4 linked regions of the Homo sapiens genome follow. The protein of the gene in region 4 interacts with the protein of the main gene of each other region in a pairwise test. Each region holds a gene or a part of one and is shown on either strand. Other genes may lie near its edges.

Region 1 (7,061 bases), on a different chromosome or scaffold from region 4:
ATCAAAATGTTAACAGAGGTTATTTTGTGAGATTGAGTAATTTTTATTGGCTTTATAATATCTCCCATCCAAGTACTAACCAGACCCTGCTAGCTTCCGAGATCAGACGAGATGGGGCGCGTTCAGGGTGGTATGGCCATAGACAGCTTTATAATATCTATACTTTTTCCATTTTCTAATTTAGCACTGATTTTATATAACAAGGGACTTTTAAACATGTACCCATAGTAGCTTAATTTGCTTATAAATCCTCTTACTTGTAAAATCCTGGAAGAAAAAACTGAAAAAATTCAGAACCACAGATTTTTTGGGGATCTGTTGTTAGTGAGGTTTTTCTCAGTGGGAACAGTACTCAGAAAACAAGACCAAGAGATTCTGGCCCTACAGGCTTTAAAAAGTAAAATTTTTTCACAGGAAAAACTAAACAGGAAACACTGTATGATTTAAAGGCACCCTATGTCTTTAAAGTATGACAGTCACTCCATGTCATATTATTCAAGAATTAAAATTATATACATATTCATATACACTTCACACATATACACACATACATGAAACATACAGCTACAAAAGAGCTGTCAAAACATAGGCCCATGAGAAATTTGTCAAGTTATACTATAAACATACGTTTAAAAGTCCTCTCATAGCAACAATTCTTTTTTAATTAACATCCCTACTTTTTAACGGTAATTCAATCTAATCATTTCCTTAAAATGCTAAAAGTTTAAAAGTCCTCTCATAGCAACAATTCTTTTTTAATTAACATCCCTACTTTTTAACGGTAATTCAATCTAATCATTTCCTTAAAAAGCTAAAAGATACGTAACTAAACTTCTCACTCCTTTAAATCTGAATTTTCAGAACAGTATCAAACATTAGTGATAACTAGTTATAAAGAACATCCAAACACCAGAGAAAAGCAGCTAAGCATGCTATGGTATATTAATGATGCATAAGTCAGCAAAAATGATACGGAGGTTTCTTTTATAAGCATTGAAGACACTAGTTTAGACTTTTTATAAAGTGAAATATGTGTTACAGAATAACAATTACAAAGTGAAATATGTATAACAGATTACAGAATTTATTTTTTATAAAGTGAAATGTTAAAGAATAATGTGTTACAAATATGGCTTCAGAAAATATCAAATTCAATCTCATTTAAGCAAAGAATATTTTATTATTAAAAAAACCCATACTGAAGAGTTCATCATAAAGATGTAAGCAATTCAATGGCACAGGAAATGAAGTATAACTGGCATCACAGGAAGAGGCTGTATTCAAGAGAAACTAATTCCTGGGATCAAAAGACCTCTCTGCCTACGTTTCTCTGCCTTTTTTCTCTCAATTAGTTGCTTCTGCTTGCCACTGGTCCAAATTAGCCACTGTTTTGTCTCCCAGTCCATATGACCTTGAAGGTCTGAAACCTATAACCATCTATTTATAGTTGTGTTTCAAGGTGAGCCATCAAAATTTTGACTGGTCAGTCACCAGCATATATATTGGCTGGCCTTGAATCTAGATTATAAACAGCCTCTTCCTGTGAGACCAGGTATACCTGATTTCCTATGCCATTGAGATTGCTCATTAATAAACTCTTAAGTGTGATTTTGTTCTTTGTAATAGACTAAATATTAGAGGATATCAAAGAATTACTGTTAATGTTATTACGTGTTAACAGTATCATGATTATGCAAAGAAAATGTCCTTTTTTGGTTATAAATGCAAACTCAAGTATCTAGGGATGAAATGTTATGCTATCATTCAGGATTTGTTTTAAAAATACTGAGGCAGGCCAGGTATGGTAGCTCATGCCTGTAATTCCAGCACTTTGGGAGGCTGAGGCAGGAGGATCGCTTGAGGCCAGGAGTTCAAGATCTGGCTGGGCAAAATAGCAAGACTGTCTCTACAAAAAATAAAACATATAATAATTAGCTGGGCACAGTGGCATGCACCTGTAGTCCTAGTTACTCAGAAGGATCGCTTGGGCCCTGGAGTTCAAGGCTGCAGTGAGCTATAACAGCACCACTGCACTTCAGTCTGGTGTCAGAGTGAGACCGCTGCAAAAAAATACAAACATGGAGGCAAACAAAAATATATAAATAAACACGTATGATTATAGTAAAATGTCAATTATTAAATTTATATTTAAATTTAATTTACTAAATTAACGCATACTGAGGTTCATATTATAAGGTGCTCATGTTTGAAAGTTTTCAAACGTTTAAAACTTACTAATTTAAAACTAATTTGAGTCACATTTCAGTTATAAAATGAATTAAACCAGTAAACAAGCATTTGCAAGTTAACAGTCCTCTCGCACATTTAATTTTTTTCCAAAACTAACTTTATGATCAAAAGAGAGCAAGATCCATCCTGTATCAACTTCCACCTCTGAAAGGCAAATAAGATTTCACTAAATGGTCAGTAAAGGTAAGATAAAAAGAAACTATGTTGAGATGATGCATATGTCAATTTGCTTCACTATAGTAACCATTTTACTATCTATATGTATCCCATAACATCATGTTATATGTATACCTCAAATATACACAATGAAATCTTTTTAAAGGATTAAAAGTATAGTTTTCCCTATTCTTTATATGCATTTTTCTGCTTCACAGAAAAATAGCATTTTCTTTTTGTACTCAATTGTCATATATTCACACAAACTTTTAAAGACAGAACACCCAAGAAATCACCTAGTCCTAACCTCTTACTTTACAAATGAAAAAAACACAAACATCAAACAACCTACCTTTAGGGTTAGTCAGCTCTTTACAAAATAGCCTACCACCCCTTTTCTGGAAGTACAAAATTTTGAAAGCACTATTACCTGCAAAAGCAGGTGAAAACTCCAACTGAGTCAAGATCCAAGACCAAAAAATAAAAATTACTGGAGAAATCATCTGAGTCTTATTAATTCAATCAACACTTACTGGGCAATCATTTTATGATGCCAGAACTTGTTACTACAAACATTAACAGGTATATACTCAGAGTTCATAGTATAGTTTGGGAGGGGAGAATATGTAAGCCTAACTACTATCTAATGTGAAAGTACTGTTATTACAGGTAAGCACAAGCTTCAACAGTGGCATGAAGGCTCTGACCAACTTGGACTGGTAGAGTATCAACGACTTCTCAAGAGGAAGTGATTCTTGAAATAAGAGGCTGCCTGACAGACGTGAGGGAGGACAATATTCTAAGCAGAGCCTGTGCAAAGCATTGCAGTGGCCTGGAGTGTTTGGGAAAATGGTTTCATATAGCCAAAGTTATGGACAGAAGAAAAAGAATAGACACTGAGGCTGGAGAGTTAGGCAGTGGATTTTGGATTTTTCAAGTACATAGTAAGAAAACATTTAGAGTTCTTCAATCAAGGGACTAACAGTAACAGCCTCCTTTTTCCAAAGCGTAGTTCCAGCAGCAGTGTGGAGGACAGGGTAAAGAGCTGACAATAAAGGAGGCTGGGCACAGTGGCTCACGCCTGTCATCCCAACACTTTGGGAGGCAGAGGCAGGTGGATCACTTGAGGTCAGGGAGACCAGCCTGGCCCACAGGGCAAAACCCCGTCTCTACTAAAAATACAAAAATTAGCCAGGCATGGTGGTGCACGCCTGTAATCCCAGCTACTTGGGAGGCTGAGGCAGGAGCATCGCTTGAACTCGGGAGGCAGAGGTTGCAGTGAGCCGAGATAGCGCCACTGCACACCACCATGGGTGACAAAGCGAGACTCCATCTCAAGAAAAAAATGAAAGAAAGAAAGAAAAGAAAAGGAGATGTCTGCTGACTAGTAAATATAAAAGGACCTGAAGTAAGGAAATTATCCAAAGCCCAGACCTTTTCTTAAGTAACACACCCATTTAACCAAATCCACCTTCATGTTAATATCCTGAAAGACCTAAACATATCTACCATACGTCCTCCTCCTCCATCTCTCTCACACACCCCCAAATAAGATGCATTTCGTCCTCATCCAGACATCCACCGTTTCTCAAATAGCACCACCATTTCCCCAGTTATATAAGCAGAAATCTCAGACATTCATACCCTTTTCTCTCAGTGCACATAGAGACCACCAAGTCTCACAGATTCAACCTAACTTTTCATCACCTCCAATACCATGACCTCAGTCCAAGGGGTCACCACTTGCCAGTACTGCTGCAGCCGCCTAATTCATCTCTTTCTCCCCTCTAGTATAATTTTACATTGCTACCAGAATTATTTTTAAATGCAAATGTGATGTTATTCGATTCCCTCCATCTTTACTGCTCCTCCCCTCACTTAAAAACCCTAGTGGCTCAGGATAAAAACAAAACTCCTAACTTGACCTACTAAACCAGCACTACATTCATCTTGACTATTTTCACCACTGCCACGCCGACCTCTTTCAGTATGGTAAATGTTTCACAGTCCCTCCTGCTACCGGATATTTGAACATGCATTTTCCTTTCTTCTTCACCAGGATAACTTTTACTCATTGTTGGAATCTTAGTTCAACTGTGACAGCCTGATCGAAGACCCTTATTTTACATTCTCGTAGCACTATATAGCTCTTCAGGGGTACACTTTATTCTTCTGATTATTTTATTAGTATCTATCTCTCTTGTTAGAACTGCCCCATGAAAACATGGCTTGTGTTTCACTCACAACTGTAGTTCCAATATTTATTCATCATACCTGACATGTAGCAGATACTCAAATCTAATCAAATTAGATCCATAATTGAATGAATTTTAAAAATAAATGAATTTGGAAGTAGAAACACATTGAAGTGGACAAAGGGATTATGTCAAAAATAGAAACACAGATTTTAATTATTAGATATGCATATTGTTTCTGGTGTGAGTAATCATGATGCCACTAAAAAATAAAAATAAAGCCAAGTGCAATGGCTCAGGCCTGTAATCCCAGCACTTTAGGAGGCCAAGGCAGGAGGATCACGCAAGGTCAGGAGTTCGAGATCAGCCTGGGCAACACAGCGGCACCCCCATATGTACGTAAAAAATTAGCTGGGCATGGTAGCATGCACCTATAGTCCTAGCTATTCAGGAGGATCACTTGAGCCCAGGAGGTCACGGCTGCAGTGAGCCAAGAACGTGCATGCCACTGCACTCCAGGTTGAGCAACTGAGCAAGACCCCATCTCAAAAATAAAAATAAAAAATATGGGAAGAAGAGTAGGCATGGGTAGTAAAAATTTTGAGATATTTTGAGTTTAGAATATCATATCTGTGCAATATTCAAATCTAAATAGTGAATAAGTTGTTTGAGTATGTGCTCTTGACTGACGGTAAAATGTGAATTAAAACAGACTTGGGGGTGTAGCAATACCTGCAGAGAGCAAGGAAGATAAAGAGAAAACCTCAAAACAATGAAATGAACAAAGAAAGTTCACAGAGTGAGATAAATGAAACCAAATCAGAATCTCAGAAACATGAGCATTTGAGGAAAATGCCACAAATAAGACAATAAATGGAGCAAATAAGAAAATTAGAAGACAATGCTGTTATAGAAGCCAGAAGAATTGAGGGTTTTTTTTAGAGAAACTGTCGGTACTGTCAAGAGCCAGGGGGAGGTCAAGTAAGATAAAAACTGGAAATGATTAAGTTAGCAATAAGTAGTGAGAGGATAAAAGTACCGTGGACTAAGGAGAGAATAAAAGGTGAGTAACTGGAAAAACAGTGAATATGGACTATTTTTCCAAAAAGTCTGAATGCAAAGGAAATGAAGGACAGGGAGAGACACATACTAGAAAGAGTTATGGTCAAAGAAGTACATGTCTGCTCATTTGTTTTTAAAATCAAAGACTCTGGTGTATTTATATGTTAAAACAATGCAGCCAGTGATTGAAAACCAGCAGGAAAACATCTCATGGAACATGGTCTGAGTCATAAGGAATTTTACCTTAGCCAGCAAAAATAGAGGAACAAAGAACCTTGGGTATGAGCAGGGTTTTTCTTTCTCAGGGAAGAAAGTATGGATGTGTACAGACTAACAGGTGTTACAAGAGGAAGGCACATCATGGAAGAGATGGTATGTCTTACTGAAAAAAAAAAATCTGACTTTTATTCTGTGAGCAATTGAGAGTTACCTAAAAACTAAGGAATGGAGTAATATATGATTAAAGATTACATTCATGTCTTTAGAGCCCCAGGCGTTTTGTATAGCCACTGGGAAACATGAAGAGCCGACTGGAAACACCTAAAAATGTGCTAAATATCCATCCAGAGGAGTATTCTCTAATTTCCCCCCCGCCCCGTGCTGCTTCTATGCAGATGCACTAGCTGATGTTAACACCATACGTCCCTCGATCCCTCAGAGAGCTTAATTTTCTTTGTTGATTTATTGTTATCGGCCACTCTCAACATAAGGATTTTGGTTTATTTTCGTCTCTCTCTGATCATTAAGAATATATTTGAAATTTATTTTAGCATTTTATAAACTTTCTTCTTCAAACTTTTCTACAAAACTGCTAATAGGGGTCAGGTGCGGTGGCTCACGCCTGTAATCCCAGCACTTTGGGAGGCCAAGGCAGGCGGATCACCTGAGGTCAGAAGTTCGAGGCCAGCCTGGCAAAATCCCGTCTCTACAAAAAATTCAAAATTAGCTGGGCATGGTAGTGCATGCCTGTAGTTCCAGCTACTCTGGAGACTGAGGCAGGAGAATTGCTTGAACCCGGGAGGCAGAGACTGCAATGAGCCGAGATCGAGCCACTGCAACAGAGCAAGACTCCGTCTCAAAAAATAAAAAAATTTAAAAAAACTGCTAATAGGTAGAAAAATAAAATGTGTAATACATTATAAATGGAATTTTATCATGTAAAAAATTTTAAAGACAAAAAAAATCTTTCACATAAAATACCAAGTTTCAAATCTGAAATCTAGGTAAAATTACTTCCAAGGTTTAAACAGAATTTGAAGTAAAGCAGCGTCTACTTCTTTTTCTTTACTAACACAAGTGATCTACTTCAGAATTCATTACATCGTAAATGCACTTTTATATGTTAACGACTGTATAAAACAAACTTTTTTTTAAATACTGAGGTATACAGAAAAATGT
Region 2 (7,965 bases), on a different chromosome or scaffold from region 4:
GACAGGGCGAGACTCTGTCTCAAAAAACAAACAAACAAACAAACAAAAAACAAAATGAGAAAAGAAAGGAGGGAATGGAAAGAAAGTAGTATAAGCTTGCAAAAAAAAAAAGTGACATACTTTGCTACTTCAGATATACTAGTCTGTTTCTTCCCCTCTGAGATACTTATTTCAGCATTCAACAAAAATTTATTGAGTACCTACTATGTACCAGGCATTGTCCTGGACACTTAAGATATATCAATGAGCCTAACGGATGCAGATGCCCTGTGGACCTTGTATTCCAGTGGGAAAAAAACAGATATTTAACAGATATTAAAGGGTGAACATACAAAATAGATAAACTACCTAATCTATAGCTCGTAAATAAATTTATTAATATAGAATATATGTCATAAGAAATATATAAAATATGAGATAGATATTATAACATAGTTTATAAAGAAATTATCCAGTACATTAGAAGGTAAAATGTGTCATTATAAAAGAAAAGGAGAGATTGGGACTCCTGAAGGGAACGGGAGAAGGCAGGCTCTGACGTATTAGGTAGAGAGGTCAGGGGAGGCCTCAATGAGAAAATGACAGTGGAGCAAAAACTTGAAGGATATAAAGGCATTAGTTCTATGTAACAGATTGTTTCTTTTTGGCATCCCAAATGATCAGAACCAAATTTGAGGTTCAAGCACAGTACTCTAGAGGCCCCTGTGGTCTGTACGTTTGTAATCTTTTGTCCTCGAGAGGCAGGATAGGACAGTGGTTAAGGGTATCGGTTCCACTGTCAACCTGGATTCAAATACTGCCTCTACCACTTACCAGCTACGTGACTTAGGGCATCATATTTCATGTCTCCCAGCCTGAGAGAAATGCCTCCCTATGCTTCAAAATGAAGATAATAATAGTACTTACCTCACATGGCTCTTTTAAGGATTAAATGAAATAATGTACACAAATTCCTTTGCACACAAGAATAAACTCAATAAAAAAACAGCTGTGATTATTGAGCTTTGGTCATGTCACTCAACGTTTATTTACATTTTCTTTGGTCCTGATTCTTTATCCTCATTGATATTTTAACATTGTTTTATGGATCCTGCCCCTTTGGTAAGCTACTTCAAATCCTTTGTGGATTGGGGTAAGTTATAAGTAAGTAAATAAATACATAAATAAAAATCTGGATAGGGGGACATTTTCACTGAAGCAAAGCATTTCATTACCAAGACAGTGAATTGCAAGTGGGCCAAAAGCAAGAAAGATGGACTCTAATCTCTAACAGTCCACCAAGAACCACCAGTAAAACACTCTCTGGTTTCTCAGACCATCTTTTTCTCCCCATCTCCTCTTTCTTAAATCCCTCTTCTTCCCTCTATCATGAAAGGGTAAATGAGTTACACAAAACGGCTCAAGAAGACTCCTAAGTCGTCACAACCTCACAACTATTTCGTTGCCATGGGCCTCACAGGACTCTTCCTCATCAGAGAAGAGAAAGGAAATCAAAGCAGTCACTTTCCGTGTGTTGGCAGGGTGCTGGTTAAGTGAACAGAGTCAGACATAAGCTAGAATCTCGTTTAGTGAGCTCTGTGGCCTTGGGAAAGCCCCTGGACCTTTCTGTGCCTCCTATTCCTCCTTGGTAATAGCAGTCCCTCCTAAGGTGTTTTGGCAGATCAAACGAGAGAATGCAGGGAAGCAACGTGGATAGCTTATTTTTAAAGCCCTCAGAAAATGCTAGATTTCCTTCCTGAACTGCACCCTGGGGTAACACTCTTCAATAAGAGGGTGTATAGGGTGGAAACAGGGTGAGGAGACTAGTTTAGGTATATCCCTATCTGACAGAAACTCAATACAAGAAACAAAAGAAGAAAGATCTTTGTTGTTGCTGTTGCCTTACTACTTTCTAGAGGTATTGTCATACTTCTTCCTTCCCATAGCCCTTTAAGATGGGCATTATTATCCACATGTGACAGCTGGGGCTGGGCTTTGAACCCAGAGCACACAGCTAGGAATGTTTGCGAGGCACCGCTAGCTTTCCGAAGTTGCCTTTACAAGGGCAGCCATTAGCCTCCACCACAGGACATCAGAGGCAGCACTGACAGGAACCTGTGAGGCCCCAGTGCACCTGGAGTACCATGACTCTGTGACCCCTGAGCTGGGGACATCAAGAATCTGGGCCAGGCTGATGCCACTGAAGCTCTCTAAGCCCTACTTTCTCCCCTTCCTTCCATCAGCCCAAAGGGCTTTCATGTTAAGGCATCCCTGCTTCTGTGACCACGTGCTATGGAACTGGCTAGATCTGAATTTGAAACACACACCTCTTAAGTGACCTTAAGTAACTCACTTATTCCTTCTGCTTCCTCTACTGAAATTGGGGATGTCAAAAGGCCTACCTCCCACAGATGTCATGAAGATTCAATAGAGCAGTGCCTTGAGAAAACACAAAACACTACCTGGCACATACTAAAGTGCCCATGTATAGTAGCTGCTATTGTTCAACTGATGCAGCCTGGAGAAATCAGCCTCATGCCGAACCATGGTGATGATGCTCTCGGGGGGTAGGGAGCAGGTCCTGGCGTACAGGCTGAAATGTCTACTCACACTTCCACACAACCCAAGCAGTATGGCCTTTTTACCCAATATATAATCCTCCCCCACCCCACAGGAAACTCCTTGAGGGCAACACAGGGACCTAATTGGGTCTAGGTCTCTAGGTCTTTTCCTAGGGGAAAAAAAAAAAAAAAAGACCAATTGAGGCCCAGCCTAGGGCCTCCCAATCAGTGCCGTTGATCCACAAACATGTGCTGATGGGCCCTTCTGTGCTGGGAACTGGGGAAAGGGAAGACACCCCGCCCTACTTTCCAGGAGTTCATAGTGCACCTGGGGAAAAAGAGAAGGAACCACTATCACAGCAGACAGAAAGTAATGAGAGCTGAGTGTCCCTGGAAATGTGGGGAGAAGGAGGTGGTATTTAAGCTGGACCTTAAAAATTAGTCAAGACATGGGAGGGATGGCATTCCAGACTGAACAGGGACAACGTGAACAAAGGCCTAGAGACAGGAAAACACAGGGTTTGTTTAAAAAACAGATTAGTGAGGTGAGGCTGAAGGATTGGGATGGGAGGGGATTGAGATGGGAGCTGGCAATGAAGCCAGTGAGCCTCAGGGGCAGGGAACAGAAATAAAAGTCATAGCTGCATGGAGAAAATGAGGAGGGAGGGCCAGCAACTTTAAACAGGATAGTTACAGCAATTATCTTAGAAGCGACACATTGAGCCTGGGCAGGGTGGCTCACGCCTGTAATCCCAGCACTTTGGGAGGCCAAGACGGGCGGATCATGAGGTCAGGAGTTCGAGACCAGCCCGGCCAACATGGCGAAACCCCGTCTCAACTAAAAATACAAAAATTAGCTGGGCATGGTGGCGGGCGCCTGTAGTCCCAGCTACTCGGAAGGCTGAGACAGGAGAATCGCTTGAACCCAGGAGGCAGGGGTTGCAGTGAGCTGAGATGGAGCCACTGCACTCCAGCCTGGACGACAGAGCAAGACTCCGTCTCGGGGGCGGGGGGGTGGGGGGAGTGACACTTTGAAGAGGTAAAGGAGTAGCCGTGTGACTATCAGAGGGAAGAGTTTCCAGGCAGACAGACCAGCAGTGCAAAGGTCCTGAGGCCACAGGGCTGCCACGCCGATGATGCATTAAAAAGGCCAATGTGACTGGAGCGTGGGAGAAGGGGGAGGGTGGTAGAAAGAGAGGTTAAAGAGCTAAAAAGGAGCCAGTTCCTGAAGGGCTTTGCAGGTCATGAGGGGCCTTTAACTTTCCCTTGGATGAAATGGAGTGCTAGTGTAGGATTTCCAGTAAAGGAACGACGTGCTCTGACTTAAATTTTAAAGGATCGCCTTGACTGCTGTGTAGAGAATCAGCTGCAGGGGGCCAAGGGTGGAAGCTGGGAGACCAGTAAAGAGACTATAATGGAAATCCCGGGGGGCGGGGGTGGATGGTGGCTGGAACCAGGGTGGTAGCTACGTGGTGGCTCGCCTCTGATTCCCCGTGTAAAAAATGGAGTTTAGGATCCCTGCCCTGTGTGCAGCCCACAGCCTCAAGCCCCCATGGGGATGGAATGCCGGAAACCTCTGGCCAGCGCACTAGCAGCCTGGAGAATACGGAAGATTGTGGCAGGATTGTGGGGCACATGGGCAGCTCCCTGCTCGTCCGGGCCCCTGGTGCCCACGAGAAAACCAAAACAGGTGCGTGCCCCGCGCCGCACGTCAGGAGGGCAAGACTCAGTGGAGGGAGGGGCTGTCCACTCGCTCTAGCTCCCCAGAGGCTGAACAGGGAGAACTGGGAAAAAGGACGCCTCCTCAGCGTCCTAGAACGAGTCCTCGGCACCTGGTATTGCATGCGCCCTAGTATGGGGCCGCTCCACTTGCGCAGGTGTTGGCAACATGCGGGGAGCGCCACGGCATGCCCCCAATGAGCCGACTCCCTCCCCCAACTCTGCCCCCTTTGTCTCGCTGGCCCCTACTCCTTCTGTCTGCCTGTCTGTCCCGTCCCAGGTTCAGCGCGCACGGCCCTGCCGGGGTCCCTCTGGCAGTTGCCGTAGCCGCGCGGCCCGACCCGGGGCTCCCAAGAGGAGAAAAAATCATGAATGAAATGGATGCGCTGCTCCCACTCCTCCGCCCTCCTTGTCCAAGCAACCTTGGCATGGGGGCGACGACTGCGGAGACTCCGCGCAGAGTTGCTCGGGAGAGGGAGGCACCTGAGATGAGGTCAGGGGTTAAGGGTCTGTGATCCGGCCCCCTTCGTGCCCCGGGAGCAGGCCGCTCTCCCGGTCCCCCGCCCCGCCAGCCCTGCGCAATTCCCGGCGAGCGGCGGAAGCCCGCCCGGGGGCGGGGCGGAGCCGGGGCTGGGGGGTGCCAAACCCACCCGGCGGCTGCGCCAGCGACTCTGCAGCTGAAGCGCATTTGGTGAGGCGGTCGGGCGAGGGAGCGCGCACGGAGCGCGGGACGGAGCGCCAGGCGGACGGACCGAAGGACGGAGGCACCGAAGGACGGACGCCCCCGCACACGCAGACGCACAGAGCTCGGCGCGGCCCCCGTCGCATACACACTGGCACAGACACAAGCAGGGACACACGCAGACACACGCACACTCGCGCGCGCATCCTCCCGCCAGCCTGCCCGCCTGCTCGCCGGCGCCCGGAGCCCGCTCTGGCCGGTAAGTGCGGCGCCTCCGTCTGCGCCTTTGTGTGCGGAGCCGGAAGGTGGAGGGCGCGGGTCCCTCCTTCGGGCGGCCCCGCAACTGACACCTTCTCCAGCCCTCCCGGCCGAGGAGCCGGCGCCCGCCCCCGCCACGCCCCCGTGGGGCTCTGGGCGCCCGCATGCTGGGGGAGGGGTCCCCCATGCAGAGGAGGGGGCTTGTCGCTTGGTAGCCGGGAGGGAGCGGCAGCCACTCCCCACGAAGCCCGTGCGCGGTTCCGGGGAGGAATCGGGATAGTGGTTTGGGGTCTGAGCCTCTGCGGCCGGCGGAGGCTGGTGCGCGGCTCTGGGCTGCATCGCCTCTCCGGAGCCTGAAGCCCCTGAGGGAGATTGGAAATCGCCGCTAGCCTTCTGGCCTCTAAAGCGCGGCTCCCAGCCTTCCCATTGCTTCGCCTCCACCGACCCTTTAGCTTTAGCCTCCCGCGTCCCACCCTCCCCTAGAATACAAGCTTAGCGCGCTCCCCTCCCCCAGCATGCTGCTTGTTTCTGGTTGAGGCCCAGGCTCCTGCAAAACCGGAGATTGCCCGGGTCAGAGCCTTGGGAGGCTTACCTTATCAAGGATCACAGGGCTTAGAAGATCAGGGCCAGACGAATCCTGGGAACTTATTCAACCTTCTCATTTTACAGATGGGGAAACTGAGGCCCAGTAAGGTGGCGGACCAAGGTCACCAGAGAGTTAGTGGTAAAGCTTTCATTAGAATCTAGGGTTCCTGGTTTTCATACTCATGCTCCCCTCCTACACAACTAGATCCCACCCACATTGAAGCCCCAGAACCCCAAAATTCACCTGAGTGTACCACGAAAGTGTGTAATTCCAGCCCTGCCCCACTTGGAGGGGCAGGTGCCATTCATTTTCTACCTTCCCTACCTATGGTACCAAAAAAAGGGGAGAGGGGGCTTTAATTTGCTTCCTTCAACCTCAAAGGAGAGCTCTCATAACACTCAAACACTCCGGGTTTGGGATTCGTTTGGGAGAATGAAGAAGCCCAGGACCTGAGATCAGATTCCCAGGCGTTAGTCCTGATCCACCCAGGACACACTGAGCCTGAGTGTCCTCAGTTGGACCAGGTGATGTGGCATCCCAGGATTCGTCCTCTTCTCCACTGTGTCCTGACTGCATGCCCTCCCAGTCACCCTTCCCTCCCGCTTGAGGGCCAGATCTTCTACTCCAACCAGGCCCCTGTAGTCATCCCTTTGCGGAGGTCCCCACCTCTTTCTCCTTGGGGCTCGTTAAGGGCAGCCTCTTGGTGCTGCTGACAAAGCTGCTGGGGAAGCTTGAGTTACAATCACACCAGGTTCGGGTGGTTTCTCAGCACGCGGCTCCCTCAAGGGCAGCCAGGTGTCCCCAGAGCTGAGCCTGATGCCTGGTGCAGAGAGGGTGCCCCGAGAGATGTGTTGAAGGAGTACAAGCATAGACGGATGGTGAAGGGATGGAGTCAGTCACCTTGGAGGAGACTGGATGGAATAGTTGGCAAGGAGGGCAGTGTTCAGTCTCCAGGGACCTGAGGTTCTGGTCTCAAGAACTTCCTTTTTTTATTTTATTTCCATAGATTTTTGGGGAACAGGTGGTATTTGGTTTCGTGAGTAAGTTCTTTAACGGTGATTTGTGAGAATTTGGTGCACCCATCACCCAGAGTATACACTGAACCCAATGTGTAGTCTTTCATCCCTCATCCACCTCCCACCTTTCCCCCAAGTCCCCAAAGTCCATTGTGTCATTCTTATGCCTTTGCATCCTCATAGCTTAGCTCTCACTTATGAGTGAGAACATACAATGTTTGGTTTTCCATTCCTGAGTTACTTCACTTAGAATCATAGTCTCCAGTTCCATCGAGAACTTCCTTTTTGAGGGGGGTGAGCAGCTCATCATGGAGCTGAGCCAGGGTGGCCAAGTGGCAGAACTTCAGGGGCTGCCACTGACAGTGTAGTCCATGTAGATGGCATTGGCTATGAAGTTTACACAGACTTCATAATGAATGGTGGCCCCTGGGTTTTTGCCATGTAGGGATTTCTGCCTTGAGAGTGAAGGGATCTGGATTCCAGTCCCAGTCTCTTCCTCACTGGCTGTACGGTGTCAGTATATAACCCTTTTGGGTCTCAATTTCTCCATCCAAAAAAATAACATCATTGGATTGATGATGTTATGAACTATTTGGCGGTGGGGTGGGAGCACGTATTTATGTAACTGCTATGGGCTTCTTTTGCTTTATGAAGGAATAATTTCTGACTCAAGAATGATGTATGTAGAGTACTTAGTACAGTCCCTAACACATAGAAAATGCTCAGGAATTGGTAGCTAGTAATTCCACTAGGACTCCAGCTTTGTGGATATACCCTATACTTCTTCCTTTCTTCAGATCATCCAAGGACATGGGATTCTTAAGGCCTCAAAGTCCTCCTCCCTCAAAAAATTCCTTTCCCCCTGACCTATTCCTGGACTTCAGGCTCAGCCAGCATAAAACATCTGTGAAAACTCCCTGGGAGGATCAACACTTTTGTTTATTCAACCTTTTGTACGTTAGCGTAATAGAATTTCATAATTAATTTGTATGTAGTGTCAAAAGCTCTTCCTATACTCTGTCACTTACTCCTCATAAGACATCCGTGACAATAGTGTTATCATCCTCATTTTGCAGATAGGGAAATTAAGGCTTGGATTTTCACTTATCTAAGGGTGCATACCTCAAAAGTCTCAGATCCAGAGAGCTAGGCCTCCAGCTCAGA
Region 3 (7,090 bases), on a different chromosome or scaffold from region 4:
TTTGTTGGGTAATAAAGTATGACTCAGGTGAAAATTGTGAGATATTTTATTTTTTAATTGACAAATAACAATTGTATATATTTATGATGTACCACATGATGTTCTGACATATGTATACATTCTAGAATGGGTAAATTGAGCTAATTAACATATGCATTACCTCTACATATTTTTCATTATTTTTGTGTGGTGAGAACACTTAAAATCTACTCTCTTAGCAATTTTCATTTACAGTATGTTGTTACTGAACTGTCATCATCACGGTGTGTGAAAGTTTTTGACTCCATAGACTAAATAAATAACTTCAAGCAAGTCATCAAAGTCATTATAGCACCAGTTTCTTCATCTGAGGATTAAACGACGTCTAGCACCCTGCCTAATACATGTTAAACAGCCAGCATATTTTAAAGTGCCTTCAAAATATAGACAAAAAGCAACACAATACAATACAAAAACATATACGATATAAAATGTCTTGCTCTCTCCTTTTTTTTTTTTTTTTTTTTTTTTTTAGAGATGAGGTCTCACTATATTGCCAAGGCTCGTCTTGAACTCCTGGGCCCTAGTGATCTTCCTGCCTCAGCTTCCCAAAGCGTTGAAATTACTGGCATGAGCCACCTTGCCCAGCTGAAATAAGTTTCTTTCCATAAAGTTCTCTGCTATCACTATTATTATTAGAGATCTCCAAGTAAAATTAAGATTTTGCTGTTGATGAAGAAAAGGTTTACAAACCAGTAGATAACATTGTTTTCTTCAGAACCTTTACTGGAAAAGGGTCCTGATTCAGACCCCAAGAGAGGGTTTTTGGATCTCATGCAAGAAAGAATTCCGGGCGAATCCATAGAGTAAAGTGAAAGCAAGTTTGGTAAGAAAGGGCCGAGCGAGGTGGTTCATGCTTGTAATCCAGCACCTTGAGAGTCCGACCGAGGCGGGCGGATCACTTGAGGCCAGGAGTTCCAGACCAGCCTGGTGAACATGGCGAAACCCCGACTCTACTAAAAATGCAAAAAATAGCAGGGTGTTGTGGCGTAGGCCTGTAATCCCAGCTTCCTGGGAGGCTGAGGCACAAGAATTGCTTGAACCTAGGAGGCAGAGGTTGCAGTGAGACGAGCTTGCACCCCCACTGCACTCCAGCCTGGGCGTCAGAGCAAGACTGTCAAAAAAAAAAAAAAAAAAAAAAAAAAAGAAGGAAAGGAATAAAGAATGGCTACTCCATAGACAGAGCAGCGGCATGGGCCGCCGGTTGCCCATTTTTATGGTTATTTCTTGATCATATGCTAAACAAAGGGTGGATTATTCATGAGTTTCCGGGAAAGGGGCGGGCAATTCCCGGAACTGAGGGTTCCTCCCCCTCTTAGACCATACAGGGTAACTTCCTGACGGTTGCCATGGCATCTGTAAAATGTAAACTGCTTTGGCATTGGTGGGAGTGTCTTTTAGCATGCTAATGTATTATAATTAAGTTACAATAAGCAGTGAGGACGACCAGAGGTCACTCTCCTGGCCATCTTGGTTTTGCTGGGTTTTTGCCGGCTTCTTTACTGCGCCCTGTTTTATCAGCAAGGTCTTTATGGCCTGTATCTTGTGCTGACCTCCTATCTCACCCTGTTGACTTAGAATGTCTTCACCTCCTGGGAATGCAGCCCAGTAGGTCTCAGCCTTATTTTACCCAGTCCCTATCCAAGATGGAGTCGCTCTGGTTCAAATGCCTCTGACAGAACCGTGTGAAATAACACAAATATTCTGGCTAAATTCCAGTGTGAGTGATTAACATTCTCCAACTTCAAATAATTTTTATTATTAGCCAACACTTGTCCATCCCCAGTAATACACACGTTGCATAAAGAGCACAGAATGAGATGGGCCTCCCTTGGCATGTTCATAGTCTGCACATACTTTCCACTGAGGGCTTCCCTTTCTTGCTCACTGCTATGCCCACAGCTTTTCAACTCCCACTATTTTCAACCCTGGGATGCTTCCTGACCCAGAGTGGCAAGTAATTCCAAAACACAAGAGATAAAATATGAACACCTGTAGAATTCCAGAGAAAGAAAGATGTAAGGTATATTTATTCATTTATTTAATTATGTATTTTAGAGTTGGGGGTCTTGCTATGTTGCTCAGGCTGGTCTGCAAACTCCTGGGTTCAAGCCATCCTCCCACCTCAGCCTCCCAAAGTGTTAGGATTACAGGCGTGAGCTATGGCGCCCGGCCTTTTAAACGTTTATTAATAGTTTTGATATCCGCGAAGTGATTGATATTTGTTCCTTTTTAACTTGGAGGCTGGGATTAACACACGTGTTCTTCATTATTGCCCACAAAGCGTTGTTGATACGCAGGAGGGGAGTGGCACTTCCGCAATTTATTCTTCCAACCTGTGCCAATGGGATCCAGCACAGGAGATGGACAGTAACCCGCGGTTGATCTGGATCTAGTCCAGTTAGTCCAGTCCCTATCCCTTCAAGTGTCCCCAGGCCCTCTTGCCTATTTTCGCCCTTTGCCCAGTGGAAGGAAAAGTTTGGGGAGAAGGAAAAAATTTAAACCCTCTTCCTAGGCGTGTGAATGTATTTCAAGTATGCTAAATACCTCAGTCTTCCAATCTAATTACAACACATAGAAAAGAGGCATTTTTAGGACATTTAAAACTTGTAGCATAATTGCGCAACTGAAGAGCGCCGCCGTGTCCCCGCCATCGGTGCGCCCTCCGACCCCCCGCGGCGCGCAAGTGCGCGGCTTAGCAGCAGGCAGCCGGGGACGGAAGGGCACGGGGAGGCCGGCGCCCTGCCCAGCACAGAACCCTGGGTCGGTATCGCTTCTCTCTGCGGGCGACTTCGGAACTGCCTGGGATTATAAACCTCGACCAATAAAGGACTCACATCTTTCTGGGTCTTCTAAAGGCAGAAAGAAATCCATTTTCTTGTCACAACAAGATTTTGTTAAGAGATGCAAAAGTAAAGGTCGAAGCCAGGGAGGCTGCGATAGTATGGGGGGAGGGGCGGCTACGATGGTGAGTGCCGCTGACCAACTACCTGGGTTCGAATCCCAGGGTTGCCATTTGGGCGGCTACTATGTGCCAGGTGATCGGAATACGGAGGTGAACTTGCTTGCCGAGGTCGCCCTTTCTTGGGGGAACTATGATTAGCTCGGTTGCCTTGGCCAAGTCTCAGTCTCGGTTTCTTCACCTGTAGGAAGTACCTGCCTCAGAATTGTTGTAAGGAGTGAGATCTTGTCTTAAGATGTAAACGGGCCGGGCGCGGTGGCTCACACCTGTAATCCCAGCATTTTGGGAGGCCGAGGCGGGCAGATCACGGTGTCAGGAGTTCGAGAACAGCCTTACATGGTGAAAGCCCGTCTCTACCAAAAATACAAAAATTAGCTGGGCGTGGTGGCGGGCGCCAGTAATCCCAGCTACGCAGGAGGCTGAGGCAGGATAATCGCTTGAACCCGGGAGACAGAGGTTGCAGTGAGCCGAGATCGCGCCACTGCACTCCAGCCTGGGAGACAGAACAACTCGTCTCAAAAAAAAAAAAAAAAAAAAAGGATGTAACCGATTAACACTTTGTTGGGCACACAGTAAAGGGCTCAGTAAGTATCCTCTCTTCTTTCACACAGTTCCAAGACAGCTCGGAAGGGAGACAGCCACGCCTAAGAGTGATTCCTTGAGCAGTTCTTTCAAAGAAGCACTGAACTCTGTAAGGACGCTTAGCTGCAGGCAGAAAGGGCAGGGGCCCTGGGAGCAAAGGTGCATAAGCCAGGAAGTTACAGGAGCGAGTCCTGCACCCAGGGCGCGGGCAGAGAACTCCGGAGGGACTTCTGGCAAGGGCTTCCCGCCCGGGTGCCCAGAGCGGCATGATTAGCATTCGCCCCGCCCCCATCTCCTCCAGGCCCGCGATTGGTCAGCGCTCCTTGGCTGCCCGCTCCTGGCGGGGCCAGAGGGCGCCGGGGGAAAGGCCGAGCCCGCGGGGCAGTGGGCGGGGACGCGCGGAGAGCTTGGCGAGGCGGCCCACCAACCGCGCCCGGGCCTGAGGGGGCGGAGCCGGGGCGGGGCTTCCCGGCGGGCATTAGAAGCAGGTGACCCGGGCGGGGCGGGAGAGGGCAGCCAGCCTGCGGCCGTGAGTCCGCTGTGGTCGCCGCCGCGCGCGGTTCCGTGCTCGCCAGAGGTGGGCGAAAGGGTGCGAGAGCGCGGGGGAGGAGCCGAGCAGGGCACGTCCCGAGAGCGTCGCCACCGCCCCCAGGAGTCCACTGGAGCGCGGAGCCCCCTGCAGGGGAGGAGGCGAGCGGCGGGCGGGACGCGGCGGCCGGCGCTCACCATGCAGTCCCGGCCTGGCCAGCGCCGGCTGCTCGCGGTGCTGTGAGGCGGCGGGGTCCCACGGCCCCCGCCTCCCGCCTTCCTCCCGCCCAGGTGCTGCCAGGCGCGCTCGCCCTCCGTCCGGCTCCCGGCCCCGGGGAGAACGCACGGCCTGCCCCTGCCCGGCTCCGTCTGGATCATGCGGGGGGCTCCCGAGGAGGAGAGGGCGAGTGACCGGCCTGCGCCGCCCCTGTTCTGGGGGCGCCCCCCACTCTGAGTCGCCCCCACCTGCTGCCATGTGCCGCTGCCACGGGTACCCAGCCTGTCGCTAAACTTTCCGGGCGCCAGCCCGGCTCTGAGTCGCGCTTCTCAGCGGAGTGACCCAGGGACGGAGGACCCAGGCTGGCTGGGGACTGTCTGCTCTTCTCGGCGGGATCCGTGGAGGTGAGAACCTTCCCTTTCTCCCTGTTCTTCTCCCGTTTCCTGTGCCCTTTTCCGGGAAGCTGAGGGTTCTGGTCTCCGGGCACTGCCTGAAGGGCCCAGCTTGGAAAGAGAGGGTGGGGGAGTCGGTAGTTTGGTTACAGGAGGCGGAGCGGGGAGGAAAGGAAAGGGGTTAACTTAAGAGATTTGGAGACAGCTCGCGGGGACCGAACTGTTGACGCCTCTCCAACAGGGAGTGGTTGCAATCTTTCTTCTCCCCCTTCTTTTTTAAAGAGTCCTTTCCCTGGAATCCGAGCCCTAACCGTCTCTCCCCAGCCCTATCCGGCGAGGAGCGGAGCGCTGCCAGCGGAGGCAGCGCCTTCCCGAAGCAGTTTATCTTTGGACGGTTTTCTTTAAAGGAAAAAGCAACCAACAGGTTGCCAGCCCCGGCGCCACACACGAGACGCCGGAGGGAGAAGCCCCGGCCCGGATTCCTCTGCCTGTGTGCGTCCCTCGCGGGCTGCTGGAGGCGAGGGGAGGGAGGGGGCGATGGCTCGGCCTGACCCATCCGCGCCGCCCTCGCTGTTGCTGCTGCTCCTAGCGCAGCTGGTGGGCCGGGCGGCCGCCGCGTCCAAGGCCCCGGTGTGCCAGGAAATCACGGTGCCCATGTGCCGCGGCATCGGCTACAACCTGACGCACATGCCCAACCAGTTCAACCACGACACGCAGGACGAGGCGGGCCTGGAGGTGCACCAGTTCTGGCCGCTGGTGGAGATCCAATGCTCGCCGGACCTGCGCTTCTTCCTATGCTCTATGTACACGCCCATCTGTCTGCCCGACTACCACAAGCCGCTGCCGCCCTGCCGCTCGGTGTGCGAGCGCGCCAAGGCCGGCTGCTCGCCGCTGATGCGCCAGTACGGCTTCGCCTGGCCCGAGCGCATGAGCTGCGACCGCCTCCCGGTGCTGGGCCGCGACGCCGAGGTCCTCTGCATGGATTACAACCGCAGCGAGGCCACCACGGCGCCCCCCAGGCCTTTCCCAGCCAAGCCCACCCTTCCAGGCCCGCCAGGGGCGCCGGCCTCGGGGGGCGAATGCCCCGCTGGGGGCCCGTTCGTGTGCAAGTGTCGCGAGCCCTTCGTGCCCATTCTGAAGGAGTCACACCCGCTCTACAACAAGGTGCGGACGGGCCAGGTGCCCAACTGCGCGGTACCCTGCTACCAGCCGTCCTTCAGTGCCGACGAGCGCACGTTCGCCACCTTCTGGATAGGCCTGTGGTCGGTGCTGTGCTTCATCTCCACGTCCACCACAGTGGCCACCTTCCTCATCGACATGGAACGCTTCCGCTATCCTGAGCGCCCCATCATCTTCCTGTCAGCCTGCTACCTGTGCGTGTCGCTGGGCTTCCTGGTGCGTCTGGTCGTGGGCCATGCCAGCGTGGCCTGCAGCCGCGAGCACAACCACATCCACTACGAGACCACGGGCCCTGCACTGTGCACCATCGTCTTCCTCCTGGTCTACTTCTTCGGCATGGCCAGCTCCATCTGGTGGGTCATCCTGTCGCTCACCTGGTTCCTGGCCGCCGGCATGAAGTGGGGCAACGAGGCCATCGCGGGCTACGCGCAGTACTTCCACCTGGCTGCGTGGCTCATCCCCAGCGTCAAGTCCATCACGGCACTGGCGCTGAGCTCCGTGGACGGGGACCCAGTGGCCGGCATCTGCTACGTGGGCAACCAGAACCTGAACTCGCTGCGCGGCTTCGTGCTGGGCCCGCTGGTGCTCTACCTGCTGGTGGGCACGCTCTTCCTGCTGGCGGGCTTCGTGTCGCTCTTCCGCATCCGCAGCGTCATCAAGCAGGGCGGCACCAAGACGGACAAGCTGGAGAAGCTCATGATCCGCATCGGCATCTTCACGCTGCTCTACACGGTCCCCGCCAGCATTGTGGTGGCCTGCTACCTGTACGAGCAGCACTACCGCGAGAGCTGGGAGGCGGCGCTCACCTGCGCCTGCCCGGGCCACGACACCGGCCAGCCGCGCGCCAAGCCCGAGTACTGGGTGCTCATGCTCAAGTACTTCATGTGCCTGGTGGTGGGCATCACGTCGGGCGTCTGGATCTGGTCGGGCAAGACGGTGGAGTCGTGGCGGCGTTTCACCAGCCGCTGCTGCTGCCGCCCGCGGCGCGGCCACAAGAGCGGGGGCGCCATGGCCGCAGGGGACTACCCCGAGGCGAGCGCCGCGCTCACAGGCAGGACCGGGCCGCCGGGCCCCGCCGCCACCTACCACAAGCAGGTGTCCCTGTCGCACGTGTAGGAGGCTGCCGCCGAGGGACTCGGCCGGAGAGCTGAGGGGAGGGGGGCGTTTTGTTTGGTAGTTTTGCCAAGGTCA
Region 4 (4,522 bases):
CATAGTGGGAAACCTGAAATATTTAACTACAACTCAGCTCTCATTCTGGAGAAGAGATAACTCTGAGGGTTGTGGCTGAATCCTGGTGTGAGGTCACAGAGACCTGAGAGCAAAGAGGGAAGGAATAATGTCTCTCACTGTGGCTTTCCAAGAAACCTGGAAGCCAGAGTTTAAAATAATATGATAGTAGCTGGTATGTATGCATTAGGCACTGTTCCGAGTGTTTTACATGTTAATTGACTAATTTTTACAACAATAATCTCATATGTAGTATTATCTCCATTTTACAGATGAAGAAACTAGGCACAGAGAAGTTAACTCGCTTGCCCATGGTCACTTGGCTATTTGAAGTGGTAGAGTCAGGATTCCAATCCAGGCAGCCTAAGCACAGGATCCGGTCTCTGGAGCACTATACTCCAAGCTAGGAAGCTAACCTGCTGGGACTACCTTTCCCCTCCCAGTATGTTGGGAAGTGAGCTTCCTGCTCTACTCTGATTACAAAATCACTACGTAGCTCAGTTAGCCTGTCAGTCCAGTGCGTGGGCCGGGGGGCGGGGGTGGGGGGTAGTGAGCATGGTCTCTCCCCACCTTCCACCTGTGACCAAATGGCAACGTTTTGTTCTGAGGACTTTAAAGGCAGTGGCTTTCCAAGGAGCCTGAGAGTGAGAATCCTGTGTCCTGGGTTTGGAAAGGGCCCTGTTGGCCACTTCACTGCAGGCTGCACCCTTTCTTTCCCAGCTATTATCGCTGACCCTGGATGGACTGACTGGTGTTTCCCAGGACCACATGCGGGCTCATTACCAAACAGGCTCCAACCACATGATGCTGAACATCAACCTTTGGTCGACATTGCTGCTGGGAATGGGTGAGAGCCAGTTCTGCTGTTCTTCCCATGTATCACCAGAGGGCAGGCTGCCCTCATCCTTTTGATCCCTCTAGCTGTTAGTTGCCCAGACCAAGGGCCTGAATTAGTTCCAAGATGCCCTTTTGTTCAAGCCCTTGAGAAACCTTCCTGGAAAAACCTGCACCAGCAGGATTTGTTTGCTACTTGTTACTGGCACAATGAAGGAGAGTCGTGTGTCAGTTGTCATGGGAAGACACTCAGTAGTAAAACACAGGGAGGTACCTGGGAACTTTCCCTTTCATGAGGGAAATGAGACACACGTAGTGCTCACAGGAAACAGAGTTAGCTGTACACTGAAGACAGTTCAAATGTGAATGATTTGCTTTGAAATCAGTGCTTCCTAACTTTTCAAATTTGGGCACATGTAGAAAGTATTTTTTATACAGCACACTGGGGTTAATGGTGGAGGCTGCTGATGGCTGAAGGTGACTAATGCGAGGGGCTTCCTTGAGCTAAGGATGTGTGGGTCAGCATCTCTACAGCATCTGAGGATTTCTGCTTGTAATCACTTTGGTAGAAGTAACTCATTAACTTTCAAGCCTTTCTCACAAAATTCTCTTTAGTTTCTCTAATCAGAGAAAAATATGAGAAGAATCAATGATGAGACGATGCAAACCCACACCATACACTTTCCCGCGTCCCACCTCCCTTGCAGTTCTTTAACAGGCCATGTGCAGGAGTGTCTGTGTGTGTGTGTGTGTGTGTGTGTGTGCGCACATTTTGTGTGCACAAAATGCGCCGTACATTTGTTGACATGTCTTCTCAGGAATCCTGTTCACTGGGGAGCTCTGGGAGTTCTTGAGCTTTGCTGAAAGGTACCCTGCCATCATCTATAACATCCTGCTCTTTGGGCTGACCAGTGCCCTGGGTCAGGTGAGTGCTTGAAAGGGGATGGCTTGGCTTCCCTACTCTGGCAGCTGGTTCCCTAAGAAAGACTGGCCTGGCTGGAAGAAGAGGGTGGCAAGATTAGCCCTGAGGTCTGTTTATAGACTTTAGACCAATGGCAGATACCCAGAAGCCCACCGGACCTCACCTTTATCTTTCTCTAGAGCTTCATCTTTATGACGGTTGTGTATTTTGGTCCCCTGACCTGCTCCATCATCACTACAACTCGAAAGTTCTTCACAATTTTGGCCTCTGTGATCCTCTTCGCCAATCCCATCAGCCCCATGCAGTGGGTGGGCACTGTGCTTGTGTTCCTGGGTAAGTGGCCACACAGAGACACAGTGACAGCTGAATTTTTTCTCCTAAAATTTACTTGTATATTTATGAAATTTGTTTAAATATTTTAGAGAAAACTTTTCTCTTTTTTTTGAGACGGAGTTTCGCTCTTGTTGCCCAGGCTGGAGTGAGTGCAGTGGTACGATCTCAGCTCACCAATCGGGTGAGCCTCCTCCTCCTCCTGGGTTCAAGCAATTCTCCTGCCTCAGCATCCGGAGTAGCTAGGATTACAGGCATGCACCACCATGCCCGGATGATTTTGTATTTTTAGTAGAGATGGGGTTTCTCCGTGTTGGTCAGGCTGGTCTCGAACTCCCAACCTCAGGTGATTCCCCCCGCCTCAGCCTCCCAGAGTGCTGGGATTACAGGCATGAGCCACCGCGCTCAGCCCAGAGAAAACTTTTTTAAAAGAGAAAAGAGGCTGAGTGTGGTGGCTCACGCCTGTAATTCTAACACTTTGGGAGGCTGAGGCAGGAGTATCGCTTGAGTTTAGGAGTTCGAGACCAGCCTGGGCAACATGATGAGACCCTTGTCTCTGCAAAAAAATACAAAAATTAGCTGAGCATGGTGGCAGACGCCTGTGGTCCCAGCTACTCGGGGCTGAGGTGGGAGGATCGTTTGAGCCCAGGAGGTGGAGGCTGAGGTGAGCTGTGATCACACCACTGCACTCCCACCTGGGTGACAGAGTGAAAATCTGTATCCAAAGAAAATAAAAGGAGAAAAGGAAGCTTTATTTCTAATCCAGCCTTCCTAGGGTCTCCCTCTGTTGCTCAGGCTGGAGTGTAGTGGCATGATCATAGTCCACTGCAACCTTGATCTCCTGGACTCAAGTGATCCACCCACCACAGCCTCCCGAGTAGTTGCGATTATAGGCATGTACCACAATACCTGACCAATTTTTTTTTTTTTTTTTGTAGCGATGGGGTCTTGCTGTGTTGCCTAGGCTGGCCTTAAACTCCTGGGCTCAAATGATCCTCCTGCCTCAGTCTCCCAAAATGCTGGGATTGCAGGTGTGAGTCACCACATTCAGCCATAGCCTAGAAGTTTTGACTCTTAAATTTCTTTTAGTCTTGCTGTATTATATATGTATCTATATCTATCTGTATCTCTATATAGATATATTTATATAGATACAGATATCTGTAATAACTAGTATCCTGGTGCCATTCTCTTGTCTCTGAGGAAGTTACATAAAACCAGTGTTCTGACATGTATTTTATTTAAAGCCCCCATTTTGGAGATACAAGGCCGACTACCCCACCCCACCACAATCATTGGTAAGTTTCATTTCCCCCCATAAGGCTAAGCCCATTTTCTTCCTTTTCATAGGTCTTGGTCTTGATGCCAAGTTTGGGAAAGGAGCTAAGAAGACATCCCACTAGGAAGAGAGAGACTACCTCCACATCAAGAATATTTAAGTTATTATCTCAAACAGTGACATCTCTTGGGAAAATGGACTTAATAGGAATATGGGACTGAGTTCCAGTCTTTTTTAATAAAATAAAATCAAGCAAAATCACATATTCTAAAAAATGCACTTGGATTTTAACAAGACAGAGTGGTGGTTTTTGTTCTTCATGCCCTGGAGCAGTCTATGGTAAATAAAAGAGGGAGGGAAGAGGCAGAGCTGGATGTTCATTACCCAGGCTGCTCCTCTCACGGGTGTGGTTAGCATGGTTGAGTGGGCGATTCCTCCAAGAACCTGAGGATTATAGGGAGGAACTCTGTGAGATCGCAGAATTGTGCTAATGGCTTCTGTTCCGATGGGTGAGGCTTGTCCCGTTAGAGCTGGTCCCATTAGAGGACGGGTGGCTGTCCATTAGAGCCAGAGAATGTAAAAGTCACTTCCTCTCCTAAAGCTCCTGTGGGCAAATATTTCATTAAAAAAACAAAGTTGTGTTCTGTCTTTTTCTTAGGCCTGGTGCAGTGGCTCACACCTGTAATCCCAGCACTCTGGGAGGCTAAGGCAGCAGGATCACTTGAGTTCAGGAGTTTGAGACCAGCCTAGACAACATAGTTAGACCTTGTCTCCACTAAAAATCAAAAACAGAAAAGAAATATTCATTGAGGCTGGGGTAAAACGAACCCAGAGTTTCAGAATCTACTGTTTTGCCATTTCCCCACTGCCTCCCCTTCAGCCACAGCTCTATCAAGACCAGAGTGGAGACCCAGTGCATACATCATGATCAGCTTTGGAAGGTCTGTGATGTACTTTTCCTGATATTCCCCCTCCATCTGTCTGTCTGTTCTCAGTCTACCTGGTCCCCTCCAGGGAGGCTGGGTTAATCCCTCCTATTCCCCTGCCTCCTCCAGCTGCTGAAGCATTGCAGTCCTCTGCCATCCTTTGCTGTGCCAAGGTGTCACCATGCCAGCTTCTGCCTGTTGAAAGGGATGCTG

The links.
Region 1: the proteins of SLC35B1 (region 4) and VAPA interact in binary tests that used the Homo sapiens proteins (3 or more experiments, as listed by UniProt).
Region 2: the proteins of SLC35B1 (region 4) and PTPN5 interact in binary tests that used the Homo sapiens proteins (3 or more experiments, as listed by UniProt).
Region 3: the proteins of SLC35B1 (region 4) and FZD5 interact in binary tests that used the Homo sapiens proteins (3 or more experiments, as listed by UniProt).

Annotation. Positions count from the first base shown.
Region 1 is NC_000018.10:9,917,002-9,924,062, reverse strand, and holds part of VAPA (vesicle-associated membrane protein-associated protein A), read right to left. Parts: intron 1-7,061. UniProt on the Homo sapiens protein: Endoplasmic reticulum (ER)-anchored protein that mediates the formation of contact sites between the ER and endosomes via interaction with FFAT motif-containing proteins such as STARD3 or WDR44.
Region 2 is NC_000011.10:18,788,760-18,796,724, reverse strand, and holds the start of PTPN5 (tyrosine-protein phosphatase non-receptor type 5), read left to right. Parts: upstream 1-4,926; 5' UTR 4,927-5,200; intron 5,201-7,965. UniProt on the Homo sapiens protein: May regulate the activity of several effector molecules involved in synaptic plasticity and neuronal cell survival, including MAPKs, Src family kinases and NMDA receptors.
Region 3 is NC_000002.12:207,766,907-207,773,996, reverse strand, and holds the start of FZD5 (frizzled-5 precursor), read left to right. Parts: upstream 1-4,090; 5' UTR 4,091-4,732; intron 4,733-5,002; 5' UTR 5,003-5,257; coding exon 5,258-7,015; 3' UTR 7,016-7,090. UniProt on the Homo sapiens protein: Receptor for Wnt proteins. Functions in the canonical Wnt/beta-catenin signaling pathway. In vitro activates WNT2, WNT10B, WNT5A, but not WNT2B or WNT4 signaling. In neurons, activation by WNT7A promotes formation of synapses.
Region 4 is NC_000017.11:49,700,443-49,704,964, reverse strand, and holds the end of SLC35B1 (solute carrier family 35 member B1), read left to right. Parts: intron 1-738; coding exon 739-865; intron 866-1,670; coding exon 1,671-1,777; intron 1,778-1,953; coding exon 1,954-2,107; intron 2,108-3,454; coding exon 3,455-3,507; 3' UTR 3,508-4,022; downstream 4,023-4,522.